2 linked regions of the Homo sapiens genome follow. The protein of the gene in region 2 interacts with the protein of the main gene of each other region in a biochemical or structural test. Each region holds a gene or a part of one and is shown on either strand. Other genes may lie near its edges.

Region 1 (11,362 bases), on a different chromosome or scaffold from region 2:
AGCTCCCTGCTTTCCCATGGCACCACCCCCAGGGCTGGCTGCCCCTCGGGTGTCCTCAGCCCCCTGAAGTACAGAGATGGATCACCAGCCTCAGCCTTACTATTCTGCCTTCTCACTTGGGACGGTTCTTACCTATCCGAGCTTCAGCACTCTCGTGTGAAAGGAGGGCCAATGGGGTCCAGCCACATCACCGACCGTAAGTGCTTGGCATATAGCAAGCACTCAGTAACTCCACCATTCTTTCCATGGCCCCTGAGTCCCTGCCTCGTTATGGGGCCCCACACATCCCTCTTCCTGTGTTTCCCACCACTCTTCCCCCATTCACTCAGCTCAGGCCACACTGGCCTCCTTGCCTGCTCCCTCCCACCTAGGGCCTTTGCTCTTCCCTCTGATCTGAAATGCTCTTCCAGTAGAGATGCAATTGACCTATTCTTTAACTTAAATCAGGTCCCTGCTCAATGGTCACCTCCTTAGAAAGCTTTCCCCAAACCACCCATTCTAGAATACCATCGACCCCATCCCTTGCTATCTTTTTTTTTTTTTTTTTTTTTTGAGACGGAGTTTCGCTCTTGCTGCCCAGGCTGTAGTGCAATGGTGCAATCTCAGCTTACTGCCACCTCTGCTTTCTGGGTTCAAGTGATTCCTGTGCCTCAGCCTCCTGAGTAGCTGAGATTACAGGTGTGTGCCACCATGCCCGGCTAATTTTGTATTTTTAGTAGAGACGGGGTTTCTCCATGTTGGTCAGGCTGGTCTCGAACTCCTGACCTCAGGTGATCCGCCTGCCTCGGCCTCCCAAAGTGCTGGGATTACAGGCATGAGTCACCATGCCCAGCCTCCATCCCTTGCTATCTTTTGTTTACTTTCTGGTCCCTAATGGGTCTACTGTGATGTGGGACTGCATAACTGCACTGTCATATTGTCTGTGTCAGCCCCTCAAGGCAGACACTGAGTTTTCTCCTGCTCATCCCCATACATCAGCTCCCAAACTGCCTTGCACATAGAGGAGTAAGGGTTCAAAAAATGTTAAATGAATGACTTTTCTTACAGTAAAAGTGTAGCCATTGCTTTATTCAGCCAGTGTCAGCGACTCCTTGAGTGTAGAGAGCACAACCAATGATGTGACATTCCATGCAGCTCTCTGTGCTCAGCAGAGAAAGGACTTCCTTCCGCATCCCTGGCCTGCTAAAAGGGCTGAAAACCTCACTGCTTGGTCGGTTACGGTGGCTCACGCCTGAAATCTCAGCACTTTGGGAGGTCAAGGTGGATGGATCACTTGAGGTCAGGAGTTCGAGGCCAGCCTGGCCAATATGATGAAACCCCATCTCTACTAAAACACACACACACACACAAAATTAGCCAGGTGTGGTGGCAGGTGTCAGTAATCCCAGCTACTCGGGAGGCTGAGGAGGAGAATCATTTGAATCCAGGAGGTAGAGGTTGCAGGGAGCCGAGATCATGCCACTGCACCCCAGCCTGGACAACAGAGTGAGACTCCATTTAAAAAAACAAACAAAAAACCTCACTGCTGCTCTTCTCTTCTACATTTCTTCTATCACTAAATATTGAGCTCAGTCAGATGTTTGGTACTGTCTGAGGTTCCAGGGATACTGAGGCAGGCATGTTTGTCAACAAGAAAGATGTAGAAGAGGGCTCGCTGTAACGTTTACACTGCTTAGCCTGGGGAGGGGCTGAGTGCGATCAAGAGATGTGGAGTGTCTGGGGCCTCAGTTTGAAACCCAGCTGTGCCAGCTTCACATTCGGTTTCTTCATCTGTAAAATGGGGCTAATGAAAGTCACTACCTCATGGAATTGTCGTAATTCTTTGTTAATCCCTGTGCCTGGCAGACAGAAAACTTTAGTAAATGTTGGCTATTAGTCCTAACAGTAAAGTATAGGTTACTTCCATAAGTTAAGCAAGACAAAAACAAAAACTAAAAATTTGGTCAAGGCATCAAATGATTTATCAAGCAGTCCAGCCCTCTTAACAGCATATAAAAGGATTCACACTCCTTGTGGTCCTCCCAGAACTTCATATTCAATCTCTCTCAAAATTCAGGTGGGGGATACAGCTGGAGGCCATTATCCTAAGCAAATTAACTCAGGAACAGAAAACCAAAAACCAAATACCGCATGTTCTCACTTATATGTGGGAGTAAACAATGGGTGCTCATGGACATAAAGACAGGAGTAGACACTGTGTATTACTAGGGTGGGGAGGGAAGGGCAAGGGTGGAAAAGCTACTGGTTACTATGCTCATTACCTGGACGATGGGCTCAACTGTATCCCAAACCTTAGCATCACACAATATATGCATGTAACAAACCTGCACAGGTACCCCAAAATCTAAAAAAACAAGCTGGAATTATAAAAAGTAAATAGGCCGGGTGCAGTGGCTCATGCCTGTAATCCCAGCACTCTGGGAGGCCAAGGTGGGAGGATGGCTGAGCCAGGAGTTCGAGACCAGCCTGGGCAACATGGTAAAATCCTAGTGGCATGTGCCCACAGTCCCGGCTACTCAGGAGGCTGAGGTGGGAGGATCACTTGAGCCCAGGAGGTCAAGGCTGCAGTGTGCCATGATCATGCCACTGCACTCCAAGCTTGGGCAACAGAGCAAGACCCTCTCTCAAATAGATGGATAAATAGGTAAGATGCCTAAAAACAAAATAAAAACATGTATATGTGTATTAGAAAACAAAACAAAACAAAATCAGATAGGAAAACTAGCCAGGAGGAAAGACACTGCTGGCTGTGCTAAACCTACGAAGCCAGTGATACAGGAATGGGGCCAGGGCCACACAATGCAGCCTTCTGTCCTTAGAAACTTCTAAGTAAAGACACAAGTGTTCGCAGCTACAGGGTTTTGGCTTTTTTTTTTTTTTTTTTATGTTTTAATTCAACTTTGTCGTGGTACAATTTACACACAATAAAATTCCATCACCCAGAAAATTCCCCTGTGGCCCTCAGCAATCAATTCCCACCTGAAAAACAACCACTGATACGATTTCTGCCACTCTAGACTATTGTTGGTTGACTTTATATTAATGGAATTATAGTATGTGTTCTTTTCCAATTTTTTTATAGCTTTATTAAGTTGTAAAACTGATTTACATAAATACACCTAATATAAAGGGTACAATTTGAAGTGTTTTAATATATTCCTATCTTGAAACTATTACTACAGTCTAGATAACCCATCACCCCAAAAAGTTTTATGTCCTTTTGTTTTCTATCCACCCTTCCTACCCCAACTACTGATCTGCTTTCTGTCACTACAAATTAGTTTGTATTGTTAAGAATTGTATATAGAATCATCTAGCAGGTACTCTCTTGTGCCTGGCCTCTTTCACTCAGCATAATTATTTTGATTCATACATGCTGTTGTATCAATACTTTATTCCTCCCCCCATCAACACACCCTCAGCAACATTTCATTGTATGGGAATACCACAATTTGTTTATCCATTCATTTATTGCTGAACACTGCAGCATTTTCCAGTTTGGAATTCTTATGGGAAAAGCCACTGTGAATTCCTATACAAGTTGCTTTATTAACAGAAGTTTTCATTTACCTGAGACCCATGGAATTGCTGGGCCACAGGGTAGACATATATTTAACTTTATAAGAAACTGCCAAACTGGTTTTTTTTTTTTTTCCCAAAGTGGTTGTACCATTTTAAAATCTTACCACATGGCTGGTTTCACAAGCTTGTATCCATCTCATGGCTTTTGTACTTGTTCTTCTTTCTTCTTGGAATGACTTCCCATTCGGTTTCAGAGCTGGGTTCTTGACATTCAGGTTTCAATTCAAATGTCAAATGCCAAAGAGGCTATTATGGACTGAATTGTGTCCCTCCTCACTCCAAATTCATGTTGAAGTTATAATTCCCAGTACCTTAGAATGTGCCTATATTTGAAGATAAGGTCTTTAAAGAGGTAATTAAGATAAAATAAGGCTGTCGGAATGAAGGACAAAAACCATACTATCATTTCAATTGATGCTGAAAAAGCATTTGATAAAATTCAACATGGTTTCATGATAAAAACCCTAAAAAAAACTGGGAATAGAAGGAAAATACCCCCACATAATAAAAGCCATATATGACAAACCCACAGCTAGTACCATACTGAATGGGGAAAAACTGAAAGCCTTTAAGATCTGGAATACAACAAGGATGCCCACTTTCACCACTGTTATTCAACACAGTACTAGAAGTACTAGAAGTACTAGCTAGAGCAATCAGGCAAGAGAAAGAAATAAAGGGCATCCAAATAGGAAAGGAAAAAGTTAAATTATCCTTGTTTGCATATTATATCTTATATTTGGAAAAACCTAAAGACTCCACCAAAAAACTGTTAGAACTGATAAACAAATTCCGTACAGTTGCAGGATACAAAATCAACATACAAAAATCAGTAGCATTTCTATATGTTAACAGTGAACAATCTGAAAAAGAAATTTAAAAAGTAATCCCATTTACAATAGCCATAAATAAAAATACCTAGGAATTAATTTAAAGAAATGAAAGATCTCTATAATGAAAACTATAAAACACTGATTAAAGAAATTGAAGAGGACACACAAAAAATGGAAAGATATTTCATGTTCATGGATAGGAAGAATCAACATTGGTTAAAATGTCCATACTACCCAAAGCAATCTAAAGAGTCAATGCAATCCCTATCAAAATACCAATGACATTCTTCACAGAAATAGAAAAAAGGTTATGGTTAAAAAGACCTTCTGATCACCATTTTGCAACTGTAATAATTGTTTCAAGCAAGAATCACCATGAATTCTGAAACCAGTGGGTAAGAGTCTAAAGAAGAGGATATTTAAATAGTCTCAAAATATCTTCCCACAGAATACTTAATAGTTACAGAAGGAAAAATCGTAACTTTATGGTAGAGTGTAACTACTCCTACACCACCTCAACCAAATGATGGAAGTTAACACCACGAATACTGGGACAAACACAATGCCATGTGCCTCCTGATGAAAGGCCCTGAGGAGGCAACTTTTTTCAGCAGTAGTCCTGCCAAAAAATGCATACCCTCTCAGAATAGCAAGGGATGGGTTGGTGGGGGGTGGGGGAGGAGAGAAAAATGGATACTCTGAAACTAATAAGAAAACACAGATGAATAAAAATTTAGGGACATTCTACAATATAACTCGCCAGTATTCTTCAAAAATGTCAAGGTCATGAAAGACAAAGAAAGGCTGGATAACTAACTGCCCTTCCAGATTAAAAGAAACTAAAGAGGCATGACAACTCAGTGCAACGTCTGATCCTGAATTGGATCCTGGGGAATAGCTATAAAGGACATTATTGGGACCATTAGCAAAATTTAAATATGGATGGAGTGTATTAAATAAAACAATTGTATCATTGTTAAAATTCCTGATTTTTGACCACTGTACTGAGATTATGCCAGATAATGTCTTTTTTTTAAGGAAACACACACATATATTTAGGATAAAGGAGTTTGATGTTGGAAACTCTAAAATGATGTAGTAAAAAAGAATATATACATTATATATGTGTGTGTGTGAATATCTATATACCGTATACTGATTTCCTTTCTTTTGGGGTATATACCATATAGATATCCACACACAATATGTATTTGTGTGTATATATACACATACACGAGAGGATATGGATATGCAGCAAAATATAACAATTTGTTATTCTAGTGGAAAAGTATATGATCTTTACGATTCTTGAAATTTATGTGTAAATTTGAAATTTAATCACAAAAAAGTTAAGAGGTTTTCAGCGACCAAATACATTATAAGAAATGGCCTGTATCCAGTGAGCACTCTTTAGCTCATTCTTTTTCTCCATCACACTTACCACTGGCAAAAATTATCCTGTGCATTTATTTAATAATACTTAACATTGTGTGCAAGGCTGTCCTAAGTGCTTTACCTGTATAACCTCTGTGGATCTTCTTACAGGTAAGGAACAAATACACAAGAAGGTTGACTAACTTGCCCAAGGCCACCCATGTGGTTTGTCTCCTGCAGTGGCACAGAACCTCAACCAAGGCAGAAACTGCCTTGTCTATTGCTCTTTCCCCAGCGACTTGGAATGGTGCCTAGCACATTACGGGTGTTCAATAAACATCTGTAGATTCAGTTAACAAACACTGGGCACCCACTAGGCCTACACTGGAATACAAAATACAGAACAAAATATTCAAAAATCTGTGCCTAAATGGGAGCTTTGGGTACTAACAGCCCCACACCCAATTAGCCTCCATCTAGGTATTTCATTTGGGTCTATCATTCCTGGGAATTAAAGCCCATTCTATCCATTTTGCAGAGGATCATTAGATAAACGGATGCTCAGGGTGGGTCAATGATTTGCACAAGATCACTGGGCTGGTAGAAGGGAAGGTCGGGATTCCAACCCAGTCCCTGAGGTTCCCAGGACAGAGCTATGAATCAAACGACCAAGACAATCACCCAGTCAGTATTTATTAGGCGCCTACTGCGGACGGTTGGTCTTCACGCAGATCAGGCGAGAAGGGATAGTGATGCGCGGGCCGCTGCGGAGACCCGGAGCCCGCCGCGGATCACGGGAATTTCGCGCCTATTTTTTGTTGGCTGGGTGTTCTCGCCAGTGATTGGGTCCCGGCAAGGCGTGCCGGTGCGCTCGGCTGCGGCTGCTCCGTCGACCTTTGCAGGACCGGGCGGTGCAGGGCTCACTCGGCTGGCGTCCCGGGGGATGGGCCACCAGGAGTCTCCGCTGGCCCGGGCGCCGGCGGGAGGTGCAGCTTATGTAAAGAGGTTATGTAAAGGGCTCAGCTGGCGCGAACACGTGGAAAGCCACGGGAGCCTAGGAGCCCAGGCTTCCCCAGCGAGCGCCGCGGCAGCAGAAGGATCCGCTACACGCCGGGCTCGGGCCGCCACCTCCCGCGCTGCTCGGTCCCGGAGGCAGCCCGGGCCCGGAGCGGACCATCCCCAGGCAGGGGCTCCAGGGGGGAAACGGGCCGCCCGGAAGTGGAGGTGCGCGGGCCAGGTAAGGGCGCCGTTGGAGGACTGAAGGCCAGCGCCGAGGCTGGAGTTACTGCCACTGCCTCCGCGCTTGGGAAGGGAAATCGGGTCCTCGGCCAGTCGCACTCCGAGAAGCCGAACTTTTCAGCCAATCCCTTCTACCCGTCGCCCTCGGGGACTTGGGTCGGTCCGCTGGGCTCCGCTAGGGCTTAATTCAATGGACTGTTTACACCCGGGCGAACACAAGGCGGGGCGCGGGGAGGAGCGTCACAGAGGGGGCCAAGCAAAGAAAAATATTTCCGCCGGCCAAATCGCGTCTCTAAGCGGTTTTCAGAAGGCGTGAAGCTTGCTGGCTCTTCTTTTTCCTATCGCTACATGACAAGCTAACAGAGAGAGCGGAGAGTTTGTGCTTTTCTTTCCGGTTCCCCCTCTGAGCTGCTGCCCAGTGGTTCGGTCTTTCCCGCTTTCCCCTCCCCTCCCCCGTTCAATCAGCGGCGGTGGCTTCCGTCTTAAAGGGGCCGCGGCGGCCGGGGGAGGAGGAGGTGGGACGCCCCGCGGCCTACGCTCCTGGCCTCCCCGCCTTGGCCTGGCCGTTTAACCGATTCTTTCGCCCGCAGGTCACAATCCAAGGTCCGGCTCCTCCGCGTCCCAGGGCCGGACGGAGGGATGAGGCAGGGGGGGCCCGGGCAGCGCCGTTGCTGCTCCCCCCGCCGCCCGCAGCCATGGAAACGGGGAAGGACGGCGCCCGCAGAGGTACACAAAGCCCGGAGCGGAAAAGGCGAAGCCCAGTGCCGCGGGCGCCCAGCACGAAGCTGAGGCCGGCGGCGGCGGCCCGGGCCATGGATCCGGTGGCGGCCGAGGCCCCGGGCGAGGCCTTCCTGGCGCGGCGACGGCCTGAGGGCGGTGGCGGGTCCGCGCGGCCGCGTTACAGCCTGTTGGCGGAGATCGGGCGCGGCAGCTACGGCGTGGTTTATGAGGCAGTGGCCGGGCGCAGCGGGGCCCGGGTGGCGGTCAAGAAGATCCGCTGCGACGCCCCCGAGAACGTGGAGCTGGCGCTGGCTGAATTCTGGGCCCTCACCAGCCTCAAGCGGCGCCACCAGAACGTCGTGCAGTTTGAGGAGTGCGTCCTGCAGCGCAATGGGTTAGCCCAGCGCATGAGTCACGGCAACAAGAGCTCGCAGCTTTACCTGCGCCTGGTGGAGACCTCGCTGAAAGGTAGGAGCACCGCGGGCCTTTCCACCCACGCAGGGCCTGGACCCCCTGCTCTCCGGACGGCTTGGCCCACACTGTTCCTGGCCTTCCTAGGCCTCAGACCTGGTCCCTGTCACCCTGTGCCCTGACACACCCTCCTTTCCTGGGCCCAGGCATTCGGCCCTCTCTTCTCAGGTCCTAAGATCAGTCCCTGGGCCTAAAGTTGGCTGGTGTTTCCATAACAAGAGCTCGTTTAAGTGCTAACCATTAACTTAATAAGTGCTCAAGAATTGCGAGCTATGGTTATTAAACGTCTTCTATTTTTAAGATCGGTTGGGGGAGTGGAGGAGGGGTCGGGTTCAGTTAGTAGCAGAACTGCGGAGCCTCCTCACCCCCGAGGGCCTCTCTCTTTCCCTCCCAAAACAAACAAAAAGAAAAAACTTGACTGGACCCACCCACACCCTCTCCCTGTCTGGTTCCAAGTTTCCTGACACCCTCCAGCTCCAACCCCCAAACTCCTGTGGCTTCCTCGTCTGCCTTTTCCTCTGAGGCCCCCGGCCCTTCATCCCAGGCAGCCGAGCAAACTGACTGTCTTCTGGCTTGGTCCTCTGAGGGGTGCAGGCTGACAACCCTCACAGGTGGCCTGAGAGCTGTCACATAACAAAGCATCCGGCATCTTTTCCCTCCGTTTTACATTCTTAATCTTTTTCTTAACCTCAGAGGCTGGCTGGGAAGTGGTTTTACTTAAAAGGAAAATGGGGTACATTGAGGCAAGAGGTCTTGCAGTCCTGGAGGAACTAATTATCTTAGTTTCCGGGTTTTAACTGCAGTTAGGGAATGTATTCATCCTAACTACTCAGTACTCACAAGCCTTTTTCATACTACCAGTAGCTAAGTGTCTGCTTGGAGAGGAGAGAGGCGGTAGAAAGTTTGAGGAGACTTTCCGAGGCAGGAGGATCCAGGGGAAGAAAGTTTACTAATCCGAGTCCCAGCTGTGGTCTCAGTGCTGAAGTAATTTTTAGGTAATAACTTCAAAAGTAAATTCTATCCTTTTTCTATAAATAAACTAAGGCTTAGAAGTGAACAAATAACTTGATCAGGGTTAATCCGCTTGAAAGGGAAGTTAGACTGTACTCCTGGTTTCCTTACATTTCTCAGAGCTTAAGTGACGGGGATCCCAGATCTGTCTTGATTCGAGGCCTGGATCCTTTCGAAGGCGTAATGCTGTTCTCTGCACCCTGAGGATGAACTTTTTTAAGAGTGGGTAGGATTTGGGGTGAGTTTGGAGGGGGTGGTTTCCCAAAATCTTGTTACTTTTGCACAACTTAAAGATCCCCCAAGTCTTTCCCAAGAGAACGCTTTGTCCCATTGCAAGTCAGTTGTTTGACAGTGGAGTTGGAAACATGAATCAGTATCACCTAGAGTCCTTTAATTAGATGTCTAACTTTATAAAGTCCATCCGTGCCCCATCCATTCTGAGAAGCCTACCCTCTCCCCAGGGTGAGTGTTTTTGTTTTGAAAAGACTTCCAGCAGGGCACAATGGCTCACGACTGTAATCCCAGCACTTTGGGAGGCTGAGGTGGGAGGATGGCTTGAGCCCAGGAGTTTGGGAACAGCCTGGGCAACAAAGTGAGACCCTGGTCTCCACAAAAAATAGAAAAAAAAATAGCCGGACCTGATGGCACAGGCTTATAGTCCCAGCTACTTGAGAGGCAGAGGCAGGAGGATCAGTTGAGCCTGGGAGGTTGAGGCTACAGTGAGCCATTATCATGCAATGGCACTATAACCTGGGCGACTGAGCAAGACCCTGTCTCAAAAAAAAAAAAAAAAGACTCCCTAGGGGATTCGTTTATCTTACCTATATTCTAGGAGCGCATCACTTACTTTGAAGTCTTTCTATTCTCAGACTTCTCTTAGTCTTCTCCTTTACTGCCAATGAATGGTCTGGACTTCCTACTACAGGATTGCCTTGGGATGTAGGAATTTGCCTTGCCGAATGTTTATTCCTTGTGTCCTCAGTTCATTGACGCCAGTCTCGAACCTTCAACCTCAGCTTGAAGCTCTTGCTTACTCTCTCAACATATAAATACTATGTGGACTTTCCTCACCTGAAGAATTTGTCAAAATTCCAAAGTGACCCCATGGCAGCATAGCATAGTGGTTAGTACCATGGACTTTGGGGTTAGACCCTCTGGCTCATCCCAGGACTGACTGCACAAAACATGGAGCAAATTGTTTGAACCCTGTGAGGAGCATTCCTTTATTGTAAGATAGTGGGTATGTACCTATGACATTAGGTACATAGGGTCACTGTGCAAACTGTTAATGTCAGCAAGTGCTCCACATAGGGAGGAATTCACTGCCTTATATAAGTTCACACCATGTTCTGTACTCTTCTACCCTCACCCCCTTCAAGATTCACATTGTTCTTGCTCAAGTTTCCCAAACTTGTTTCATCATAGAACACACCTTGTTTTCTGTGTTGTCAGGCACACCAAGTTGACAGAAACACTGGTGTTTTCATCCTCCCTTTGTGAACTAAAACTGGGACCTAGAAAAATGAAATCTTTTGCTTTAGGCCGTACACTGGATTGGATTGGTCCCTTTCAGTTGTTTGGAGTCTTTAAAATATTTGAACCTCTACGGTGTTCAGGGCTCAGAGACAGAGCAGTGAAGAAAATATGTGTTGTTTCTGCTTATGAAAATGACATTCAAGCTGACTTGCAATGTGTGGATTTTTCAAGTAGTAAATAGGTAATCATTTTTGCTTCTTAAAATAGAGAACAGATACCAAAATTACTCCAGGTTAAACTTTGCTTATTCTGGATTCCAAAATTTAGGGGTCTTGATCTGTCCTGGGGCCTTGGGTTTACAGCATGCAAATACCACCCAGTAATGTTAAAGCTGGAAGGAATCGTAGAGATAACCTGGTTCAGCTCTCTCATTAAATAGAAAAGTCCTTTACAGTCACCCTTGGCCCTGCCTCCTAAAACTCAGAATGATTTTGAACAGGCCAAAAAGTGTGAATCTGCCTTGAAGTCTCAACTAAACCTAATGCTGAGTCCCTACTGTGGTATTTGAAGGGAAAGAAAAAAAGCAAAGCAAAACACACCACCCCTTGCCCCAATGGAACTTACATTTGAAAAGTTTGAGAACTGGAAGAAGATTT
Region 2 (11,531 bases):
GCTGGGATTATAGGCGTATGCCACCACACCCGGCTAATTTTTGTATTTTTAGTGGAGATGGGGTTTCACCATGTTGGCCAGGCTGATGTCAAACTCCAGACCTCAAGTGATTTCCCCACCTCAGCCTCCCAAAGTGCTGGGATTACAGGCGTGAGCCACCACGCCCGGCCAAGAGGCATTATTTTCATTTGGGTCAAACAGGCTTCACAAATAAGTTGGTTATTTGGTCTGGACCAAACACACTGGGTTGAGATAGAGGAGAAGCCCATTCTATCCTGAGCAGAGATAGGGCAGTGTGAGTCATGCTTAGGAACATGGAGGAGACCACACTGCTGGTGTCAGCTACCCAGAGTGTGGTGAGGGAGGATGAAGTGCTTGGGAAGCCCCTTGGGGCTATGCTGGGGAGCCATCAGCCATGGATGTTATCAGATTGGGGTGTTTAAAAGATCAACCTGGTGGCAAATGGAAGGTAGAGCTGATGGGAGGGTGCTAGTTCAGTGCCTAGTCCAGGAAAGAGGGGGCATTTTTCCAGTTTGTCTTTGGTATATATTATTTATTTTACATGAGTGAAACAGCAGCTTTGTTAATCTGTTGCAGATCTGAACATAAAGTCTGGTCTCCTCTGGTGACGGAGGAAGGGAAGCGTCATCCATACAAGATGAATTTAGCCTCTGAACCCCAGGTAAGTTCTTGCTCATCGTTGCCGCTGCTCTCACCACCCAGCACTTTGCCGTTTCTGACACTGCTCAGCACATTCCTGTTTTTCCTGCCCTGGAGGCCTGGGGATAAGACCCTTCACTGTCTCTGCTGGTATCTGGCTCTTGTTCAGTTCTTCCCGTAAGGGAACTGCAGGAGGATAGGGCTGGAAAACCCCAGGGCAGTGACGCTGTGTCCTGGGCTGGAAGCAGGGGGTCGGAAGGCGATAAGGGAAGCCGGTGGAAGCCTTCCTGCGTGGGAAGGGTTGGCAGGATCACAGTGAAGTCAAGGAGCTATTCAGCTCGTTATGGATTTCAGCAACAAATGAATCATGACAGGGATGAAAATAAGTTTAGGTCTGGAGGCCTAGAGCCTAGAAGAAATCGGGGAATATGTAATAGGAAGCCCTGCTTCTCCCCACTGTATGCCCCTGTCTGGTTTCCATGAGCCATGGAGTGGAAATCTCTATTTTTGTTACAGTGAAACTTCTAGTGAGACTTTAAAATTACTAAAATAAAGCAGCAATTAATATAAAAAAAAGCAGTACATAGTGTACAATTTGTCACCCAGATAGAATTTCTCAGGACAGTAGACTGCCCTAAGATCCCATATTTGTGAATAAATCTCTCAGTAGTTGGATTATTGGATTGTAGGTGATTTTATTTCTTTCTGCCTTATGTGCCTCTTCTAAATAATCTACAAGGCATGGGTATTGTTTTTGAAATAAGGGACAAACTTAGAGATGTTTAGAACATCTTTTGTAAAATTCCTCACACCCAACATGCTACTTGTCTCAAAGTATGTGTCTGTTGGATACATTAATGAATTAGTAATGATAAACTAGGTATGTTGATAATGCCTTTTGAAAATTTTACACTGGTTTGTGATGGTTATGCATTTGACCCAAGTTGAAGATTTGAAATTTAACTTATTTTTCTAAATTTGGGATACTATTTAGTTTTTATGGTGAATTAAGATGTAATTAAAATACAATATATAGCTAGCTATCTTTTATACATAAAACAGAAACTTGTATGAAGTTGAACTCACTTGGTATATTAGTGTGTGTTAATTGGGTGGTTGGATATAAGTCATATTTTCTCAAATAGAATCCATTAAAATTTCAAAAACGAAGTCACATAAAATTTTTGCCATTAAGATAGTAAAAATAATTATTAAAAATCCCAAGAGTCATTTTAAGGATCATTTTGCATCATTTCAAAACTGATGTGAACATATTCTTCTATACAACTCCTCTCAGGAAAGTTCGTAAAATGGCACTTGGTCTATACACTGGCAGTTGTGCAAACTAATTTAAAACATGCCACAGTTAGTTTCAGTTTCCTTGGGAGTTCTCAGCTACTTCATTAAATTTACCATAAATGTTAAATTTTAATTGTTAAATTTTAATTTTTACATATTTTATAACACACAAGGAATGATTTCGTTTTAACTTGGTCTATCTGAAATCCTCATTTTCATGTAAATAAGGTAATTATGTAAATTTCAGTTATAGTTTTCATTTGTAGTATATTTGAATTTTCATTTTAAATCTGTAGTTACCTGTATTAATCTTTTGAAGGTAGTTCTCTTCAGATTACAAAAATTCTCAAATACTTTAAACCCTTGTATTTTTCTTGTGATTCTAGTAATGCTTTATTACTGTAAGAAAAACTTCTCACCCATCATTTTTCCAGTCTTTTACTTCCAGCCATTCTAAAGTAGAGGATAAATGAGTAAGAGCAGAGTTCATCTATAATAAAAAGATCTGTTGGTTCATGTAATGCCAACCAACACCCCAGCTTATCTGAGGTCAGCATAGTTACACACCTAGTTTGTACTTCCTCATTATTGAGTTTCCTTGGAGACTGATAAATACAAAGCCCAAACAATTACATCATCCCTTCTAAAAGGCAAGCCCTGAATCTGCCTGCTTTCTGGAAAGACCAGTCAGTATTCAGATGAGGGTAGAGATATTCCTTTTATGTACAAACCAGATGCATTCTTGAAAGATTCTTTAGAAAGTGAAATCATCCGAATTTTCAACCTGAATTTTCCATTGACTTCCATTCTAATTGGAAATGTGTTTCGGTGGAGGGAGAAGGGAACAGACCCTGGTTGAATATGTGCCACGAGCCAGGCACTGTACTTGACACTCTAGTAACTCACACAAATCCTTGTAAAGAAGGCTTTATCTTCTTCATTTTAAAGATGAAAAATGGGCTTAGAGGGGTATTCCTTGCCAAACAGGAAATTGCAGGGAAAAATTGAGCCAAGGCGGAAAAATAAAGACCCTTCCTTGGGGCTCTGCATCCTCTGCTGCTCCTAGGAATTGCCATGGTGATGGAGAGAAGAAGAAAGAATGACCATCCTGGCTGCGGCACATGTAGGCAAGGGTACCAGGCCACCCATCTGTAAATCTCTGTCTTCATGACCATAGCCTTTAATTACTATATATTATTTATTTGGGTAGCTGTGCCATAAAATTTACTTAACTACTCTTTGATAACTGCTGAAGTTTTGTGTTGTTTTTTATTTTTTGTTATTTATTTTTATTTTTTATTTGTGAGATGGAGTCTTGCTCTGTCACCCAGGCTGGAGTGCAATGGTGCAGTCTTGGCTCACTGCAACCTCTGCCTCCTGAGTTCAAGTGATTTTCTTGCCTCAGCCTCTGAGTAGCTGGGATTACAGGCAGGTGCCACCACGCCTAGCTAATTTTTATATTTTAGTAGAAACGAGGTTTCACCATGTTGGCCAGGCTGGTCTTGAATTCCTGAACTCAGGTGATCCTCTTGCGTTGGCTTTCCAAAGTGCTGCGATTACAGGAATGAGCCACCGTGCCTGGCCTGTTTTGTTTTTTTAGGGATGAGAGTCTAGCTCTGTCACCCAGGCTGATGTGCAGTGGCACGATATGGCACACTGCATCCTCCATCTCATGGGCTTACATGATCCTCCTGCCTCAGCCCTCTCAAGTAGCTGGGACTACAGGCTACTTGACTGTCTAACTTTTTTTTACGGATGGGGTCTTACTATGTTGCCCAGGCTGGTTTCGAACTCCTAGGCTCAAGCAATCCTCCTGATTTGGACTCCCAAAGTGTTGGGATTACAGGCGTGAGCCACTGCACCCAGCCAAAAGAGAAATCTTTTTTTTTTTTTTTTTTTTTTTTTTTGACAGAGTTCCACTCTCGTTGCCCAGGCTGGGGTGCAATGGTACAATCTCGGCTCACCGCAACCTCTGCCTCCTGGGTTCAAGAGATTCTCCTGCCTCAGCCTCCCGAGTAGCTGGGATTACAGGCATGCGCCACCATGTCTGGCTAATTTTTGTATTTTTAGTAGAGATGAGGTTTCTCCATGTTGGTCAGGCTGGTCTTGAACTCCGGACCTCAGGTGATCCGCCCGCCTCGGCCTCCCAAAGTGCTGGGATTACAGGCGTGAGCCACCACGCTCGGCCCAAAAGAGAAGTCTTAAACATAAAAATATTTTCAGGTTGTTTTCTTTTATTTTAAATTAGGTACTCAATAAAGCTTTTAGTTTTCATGATTTTTTTTTTTTAAGAAAGCATAAAAGACTTGAATATTTAACAAAAAAGGAGAGAAAAAAGGAAGTGCAACAGATGACAGGAACTCTTTTGGAGGCAGCTGTTCTGGGCCTGGGTGTTTTAAGAAAGAGACTAGAGTTCAGGAAGATTTTTCTGGAAAACACAGACACTAAGACACATTTTGAGTTCAGCTGGCTGCACAGAGCATGCATCACCTAGAAGCCATGGGTTGTCCAGACACCCATATAGAAAGGACCTTGCTGATTGGGCTATCAGAAAAGCTGTGATGCTGGCAGGAGGGAAAGAAAAAGTAGAAAAGCTGTAGTTTTAGAAAACAGGAATGTTAATTTCCAAAGTGGCTTTGCGGGTTTGTAAAGGAGCTCTGAGATGTTGTAGCTGTAGTAATTATTCACCTGACTCTTAACAAGTCTAGGGTGGGGGTGGAGGGAACTTTCTCAAATTACAGAAAGAGGGGAATGAGAACACAAGGAACTCAAAAGTCCTTTTCTGCAGCTCTGCTGGGTACCGCCCCTGTAACAGGTATCCCCGACCTTCTATCTGATTAGCCTTGTCTTTCTCCCAGAAGAAACAATAGATCCTTAATTTCCTTTACCCTTGCTCTGCAGGAGACTGAGACCATCTCTGCCTAGTCAGCAGCTGCTTCCCCTGTGACACCACACCCTCTTACCTTGCTTGTCTAACTTGCTCACTTATGGAGAATTTATCTCCACCTTTTATCATCTCCTGCTTTTGCACTGACCAAAGTGACTGCATATTTCTCTTCACCTAGTGCTTTAATCTCTTTGGTATGTGCCCTGAAAGCGTGTTTTAGCTCTGACTTGAATCTTACAGCCCAAAGCATCAAGGGCTGTCCTGCCCGAGGGTGCCTTAGAGGGCAGGCTTTGCTGGGCCTCAAGGAAGAATCAGAAGGTAGAGATGATTCAGGGGGTGTGAACTCGCACAGGTGCCCATTGTGGGAAACTTCCCCAGTCATTGCCCGTGTGTCTCAGTGGGTGTGTCAGTGTCCCTCAGCTAAAGTTTGGGTTGAACTAGGGCCATCTTAGCAGCTGGAACACCTCTCCCTGGCGCTCAGCCTGCACTGCCCATCAAGGGGTTTGCATTGGATGCCCCCCTTGATTTCTCCTCTGATCCCTGCCTGCAGGAGGTCCTGCACATAGGAAGCGCCCACAACCGAAGTGCCATGCCCTTTACCGCCTCGCCTGCCTCCAGCACTACTGCCAGGGTCATCACAAACCAGTACAACAACCCAGCTGGCCTCTACTCTTCTGAAAATATCTCCAACTTCAACAATGCCCTGGAGTCAAAGACTGCTGCCAGCGGGGTGGAGGCGAACAGCAGACCGTAAGTAGCCCAGGAGTCCTCCTCTGAGCCGCTCCTGGGAGGGGCTTTTCACATCAGGACCAGGGCTGCCCAGGCAGGTGCAAGAGCCACTACTCCAGGGAGAAAAATGACTACATTAGCAGAACACTTCTGTGTTCATTTTCTTCATCTACACAAAGGGGACAATACCTCCTGCTTTATAGGGTGTCTGTAAAAGTAAGAATTAATACGTAAAATGCCCAGCATTGTGTTAAGCACAAACAAATCACTTAATCCTCCAGAACTGTTTTTATTTGTGTTTTGATTTCTGTGGTCATCATCTTCTAATTGAACATAGTCCTTCCTTGACAGGCCTGCTGCTTCCCGAGAAATTCTTCAGTATTATTAGTCGGGGAGTGTTTGAGGGAATCTAGAGTAGCCTGTGCTTATGTCCACCATCTGAACTAAGCAAGGGAGAAATACTTCATGCTGCATAGTTTTGGTGAAGCAGTGTTTGCTTTTTCCCTAGAGTGGACCAGAGGTCATGAAAGAAGAGAGGTCCCTGAGGATATAAATGCTTGTCCTAGGAATAGGTTCTGATCTGGGGACAGAGGCAGGCTTAACTGGGGGAGAGGTAGGGCTGCAGGTGGAAAGGGGAGAGGTGTCTGAGGAAGTGCCTTGCTGGGGACTGAGGAGGCATGTCCTCTTCTGTCACAGATCATCTGGCTGCAGCTGCCTTTGAGTCTTTTTTTTTTTTTTTTGAGACAAGCTTTCGCTCTGTCACCCAGGCTGGAGTACAGTGGTTTGATCACAGCTCACTGCAGCCTCGACCTCCTGGGTTCAAGTGATCCTCCCACCTCAGCCTCCTGAGTAGCTGGTACTACAGGTGTGTGCCACCACACTTGGCTAAGTTTTACTTTTTTTTGTAGAGATTGGGGTCTCACTGTGTTGCCCAGGCTGGTCTCGAACTCCTGGGCCCAAGTGATCCTCCCACCTCAGACTCCCAAATTTCCGGGATTACAGGCATGAGCCACCAAGCCCTTTGAGTCTTTATTGGAGTCTCCTGGATCTTGCCAGCAGAGGGGCCCAGTGTCTGCTCCATCTCAGGCTCTTTGAGGATGAATCCAGAAACACTGGGAATCCCAGCAAAGGAACTGGGTTTGAGGATGGGTTAAAGATGGGGCCAATTCTCTGTAGGTGTAAAGTGGGTGGACTAGGTTAGGAATTGCCCACTCAAATACCCAAAAGTGGCAGGCAGGATGAGGAACTGAGGCAGAGCTCTGAGTAAACAAGGGTGCTGGGTGGGGGTGGGGGTGGCAGCTGGAGCGTGCATTCCTGGTCCGGAGGGGACGCTGCTCCTTGGCTCCAGCCACGTGCCTCATGCAGGTCTCATTTCTGCTAATTATTTCCATTAAAACAGAAGTTGGAAAGCCTCTTTTTTTCGGAAATCTCCTGATTTTTAATTATTGGTGACATTTAAATTTTGTTGGAAAACACTGTGTGGTCCAAACTTGCCTTAGCTCTGAGAACCTTTCTCACTTGGAATCATCAATTTTTGTATTGCCTCTGAAGCCCGCTTTGCCATTCAGTTTCTCCCCAATTCACCTTTAACAAGAACCTGCTCAACTCTTAGGGTAATTAAATTGCAAACCAATGGCTTCAAATGCAGGTTGAGAGAGGTTAAGATACTAGAGGTTCCAAACTACTTAAATGTTTGGAAAGGGCTGTTGTAGCAACACCTCTCAAGGGCTCCTTGGGCATTCCTTGCATATAGTCACCCCTCCCCTCCCCAGAGAGAGACAGATGTCATTGGACACCCATGACATGTGCATCCCTGTTCCCTGTGCCTGACACTGAGAGGACACTAAGATTTCTTTCTTTCTTTTTTTTTTTTTTTGAGACGGAGTTTCACTCTTGTTGCCTAGGCTAGAGTGCAATGGAGTGATCTCTGCTCACCACAACCTCCGCCTCCCGGGTTCAAGCGATTCTTCTGCATCAGCCTCCCGAGTAGCTGGGATTACAGGCATGCGCCACCACGCCCGGATAATTTTGTGTTTTTAGTATAGATGGGGTTTCTCCATGTTGATCAGGCTGGTCTCAAACTCCCGACCTCAGGTGATCTGCCTGCCTCGGCCTCCCAAAGTGCTGGGCTTACAGACGTGAGCCACTGCGCCCAGCTGACACTAAGATTTCTTTTAACATTTCTTTGAGTCTGGTAGGGCAGACTTTTTTCTGTGTGACTTTGGCTTTAGAAGATGTTAAAGGTTACTGGCCATTTATCATAGTAACCAAGGCAGTCTCCACCAATGTTTCTTCTTCCCTCAAATTCTGGTTCTTGCAAGGGCTTACTGGCTTGAGATGATGATTCTCTTCCAGGCGACTGTGGGGACATTTGAGATACCTGAGAAACGGTGTCATACTGGTCCCCCTAGGCTTTCCACAGACACACCCTGAGAGGAAGCTTCCAAGCAGCTCAGGAGTGGTGGAAACACTGGGGGCCTGTGATCCCTGTTTTTAGCTGCTTTGGTGCTGGGGAGGCTGAGAACATGACCCTCTTTTACTGTCCCAGAGTGGAATATTCCATGATCTGGACTTAGTAACCCAGGAAATGACACATCCTTAATTGAAAGAGCTGCTATGCATTGGGAGAAATATGTGCCTGGGAAATATTTTTAGTATGGCCTTGGCTATTTTTCCTTCATTAATGTCTCTCTTCTCTCATGTTCCCTGCCTGCTCCCTCCTCTGAGTCTGAAACTACCAGGTGGCTGTTTAAGCCTTTCCTCTAGCCCCTGGCCCAGACTCTTTGGCTGCAGTAGTTGCCGAGTATCAAAATTTGTCTCTTTGCAGATTTTCTCAGCAGAGAGGGTCCTGTTTCTGTTCCACCCCGCACTCTTTGAGGCTGAACCCAGAAACAGTGGGAAAACCAACAGCCTAAGGCAGAGGAGCTGCCTAACTGGCCATGCTGCTTGTATGGGGGGATCTCAGCTTGCTGGTGTATTTCTAGTGCATTCCCACAAAGAAAGATTCTCCTGTGAGCCCAGCAGTCACCTGGTAACTTTGCTTGCTCAGTCAGCACAAGTCCCAAGTGCTCGCTCCCTCCCACTGTTTAGTCTGTGAAATTCGCTGAAGTTCCAGAATTGGCTCACTACATACTTTGCATCTGAGGTCATCACCCATTCTCTGGGGCTTGCCCTGGATTTCTTTGTCCTATGCACTTGAAAGTATTGTGGTGTGTCTGTTGCTATCTGTCTTGTAGGTCTTTACAGAGCTGTGTCCCAGTCAGATAAGAACAGAGATAGCCTTGCCAACTGGTAAGGCAGGTGAGGGGGTTTCTCTGCTGCCCTTCCTCCCAGTGCACACAGTGGAGGGGGAGGTCCTCAGTGGCCTTTTTCCTCTAGGTCAGTTCAGCATAATCATTTATTGAGTGCCTACTGTGTACCAGGTGGGCGAAGAAAATGTCAGTTCAGCAGAAAGCTAGCACCTTTCCTCTGTTCTCTTTTAATTGAGTTGAGGGGACCCTGGTCAAAATCAGAAAATTCAGAGCCCAGATTTCATTGTTTATATGATACTGCCTGATACTTCCTAAAGGCTTGGTAGATAGAGGGGCCTGAGCCTTGAATTCCAGCTCTGCCTCTTACTAGCTGTGTGACCTTGGGAAAACCATGTAACATCTCTGAAACTCAGTCTCCTGAGATCTAAGGTGGAAATAATACTAACTTCTTTACCACCAGGTTGTTGAGACAATGCAATGGGATGTGCACAGAGCACTCAGCACAGTGCCTGGCCCCTGGTAGGTGCTCACTAAATGCTAATTATTGCTAACTTTAGTTTCCATGAGGAACTCCATCCCCATCACTTCTGAGAACTGGGGGCTACAGAAGTGTGGAAGCACATAGACAAATGTAATGGAGAAGACTTTGCTGTGGCTTATGGTACACTTCTTTCTTGCCCATTAAATTCAGCCAGCCCACACAGCTAATCAGCTTACTGATGGGGTGGTGGTGTTCTCTTCAAGGAATGATTGGAGAGCTCCTGTAACCAACATACTAGGCCCTAGATAATAGCTCTTCCAAATTGTGTTGTAAGGTGTTGCCCCCAAACATTCATGAGGGAGATTTCTAAGCAGCTGCCCTGGAAATAAAGGGATGCATCATTTTCTATTCAAATATTATCACAAGGATGATGTTAACCCTGGCTTCTTCAGAGCTGAATCAGAAGTACACCTCTATCATGAAGGCTGCTTGCCCCTCTAGCTAAACCTGCCTGCCACCCACAGAAAACTGGCTCTGCTGTGCGGGCATTCCTCTCTCTTCTCCTGGTGCCCACAATTACCCCTCTGGTTTCTTATTGCAGGACCAATATGTGTGCCTTTGAAGACCAAAACTTAGGAAGCACACAGGCCAGGCTTCCCTTCTGAAAATGATTACATAGGGTTTCCCAGAATGGCGTTTTTGGGTGAACATTGGGGTAATCAGGCTGGGACATCTCATTTCTTGGGATATGAGATAGGAAAGATTTTTCTGGGTCCGCCTACCTCCTTTCCCCCACCTACATAAAAAACAAGTATTCCTCTACATTATTTCCAGCTAGCACTTAACTTCCACCATTTGGGGAAAATATTTCTTAAAATTAATTAAAATTTTTATTTTGAGATAATTGTAGATTCACTTGCAGTTATAGGAAATAATACAGAGATCCCCTATACCCTTTACCAATTTCCCTCAATGGTAACATCTTGAAAACACAATAGTAACAAAATTAGGATATTGACATCAATACACTCAAGATACTGAACATTTCCATCTCTGCAAGGGTTTCTCATGTCGCTCTTTTATAGCCACACTCGCTTCCCTCCTTTTCCCTCATCCTCCTTAACCCCTGGCAACTTACTTATCTACTCTTTATATTTTTATTATTTCAAAAATGTTATATTAATGGAATCATACAGTATGTAACCTGGGATTAGCTTTTCTACTCAGTATATTGTCTGGAGATTTATTTAGGTTTTTGTATCGATAGGTTTATGTATCAATAGTTTGTTCCTTTTTTTTCTGTTTTATGGGTTTGTCTTTTTTTATTGTGTTAAAAAACATGAAATTTATGATCTTAAACGTTTTTAAGTGTATTGTAATGTTTACTATGTGTACATTGTTGTGCAACACATCTCTAGAACTTTTTTATCCTGAAAAACTGAAATTCTGTACCCATTGAAAAACAACCTCACCTTAAAGTCCCCATCTCTCAAGCCCCTAGCAACCACTATAATACTTTCTAAGTTTGATTACTTTAGATATCTCATATAATTGGAGTCATGCATTTGTCTTTTTTCAATTACCATAATGTCCTCAAGGTTTTCCCATGTTGTAATATATGACAGAATTTCCTTCTTCTTTTCTTTTTTTTGAGACAGAGTCTCGCTCTGTCCCCCAGGCTGGAGTGCAGTGGCGCGATCTTGGCTTACTACAAACTCTGCCCCTCCAGGTTTAAGCAATTCTCTGCCTCAGCCTCCCGAGTAGCTGGGATTACAGGCGTGTGCCACCATGCCCGGCTAATTTTTTTGGTATTTTTTTAGTAGAGATGGGGCCTTCTTTTTTTAAGGCTGAATAATATCCCATTTTTTTTTCACATTTTCTTTATTCATGTTGATATGGTTTGTCTGTGTCCCCGCCGAGATCCCATCTTGAATTCCACGTGTTGTGGGAGGGACGAAGTGTGAGGTAATTGAATCATGGGGTCAAATCTTTCCCATGTTGTTCTCATGATAGTGATTAAGTCTCACAGGATCTGATGGTTTTAAAAAGAGGAGCTCCCTTCACCAGCTCTCTCTCTCTTTGCCTGCTCCATCCATGTAAGATGTGACTTGCTCCTCCTTCCACCATGATTGTGAGGCCACCCCAGCCATGTGGAACTGTAAGTCCAATTAAACCTCTTTCTCTGTAAATTGCCCAGTCTTGGCTATATCTTTATCTGCGGCAT

What was found.
Region 1: the proteins of PDLIM1 (region 2) and STK35 form a complex in vitro, tested with the Homo sapiens proteins (one study listed by BioGRID).

Annotation. Positions count from the first base shown.
Region 1 is NC_000020.11:2,095,150-2,106,511, forward strand, and holds the start of STK35 (serine/threonine-protein kinase 35), read left to right. Parts: upstream 1-6,677; 5' UTR 6,678-6,732; coding exon 6,733-7,026; intron 7,027-7,618; coding exon 7,619-8,216; intron 8,217-11,362.
Region 2 is NC_000010.11:95,257,929-95,269,459, reverse strand, and holds part of PDLIM1 (PDZ and LIM domain protein 1), read left to right. Parts: intron 1-597; coding exon 598-682; intron 683-5,396; coding exon 5,397-5,596; intron 5,597-11,531. UniProt on the Homo sapiens protein: Cytoskeletal protein that may act as an adapter that brings other proteins (like kinases) to the cytoskeleton. Involved in assembly, disassembly and directioning of stress fibers in fibroblasts.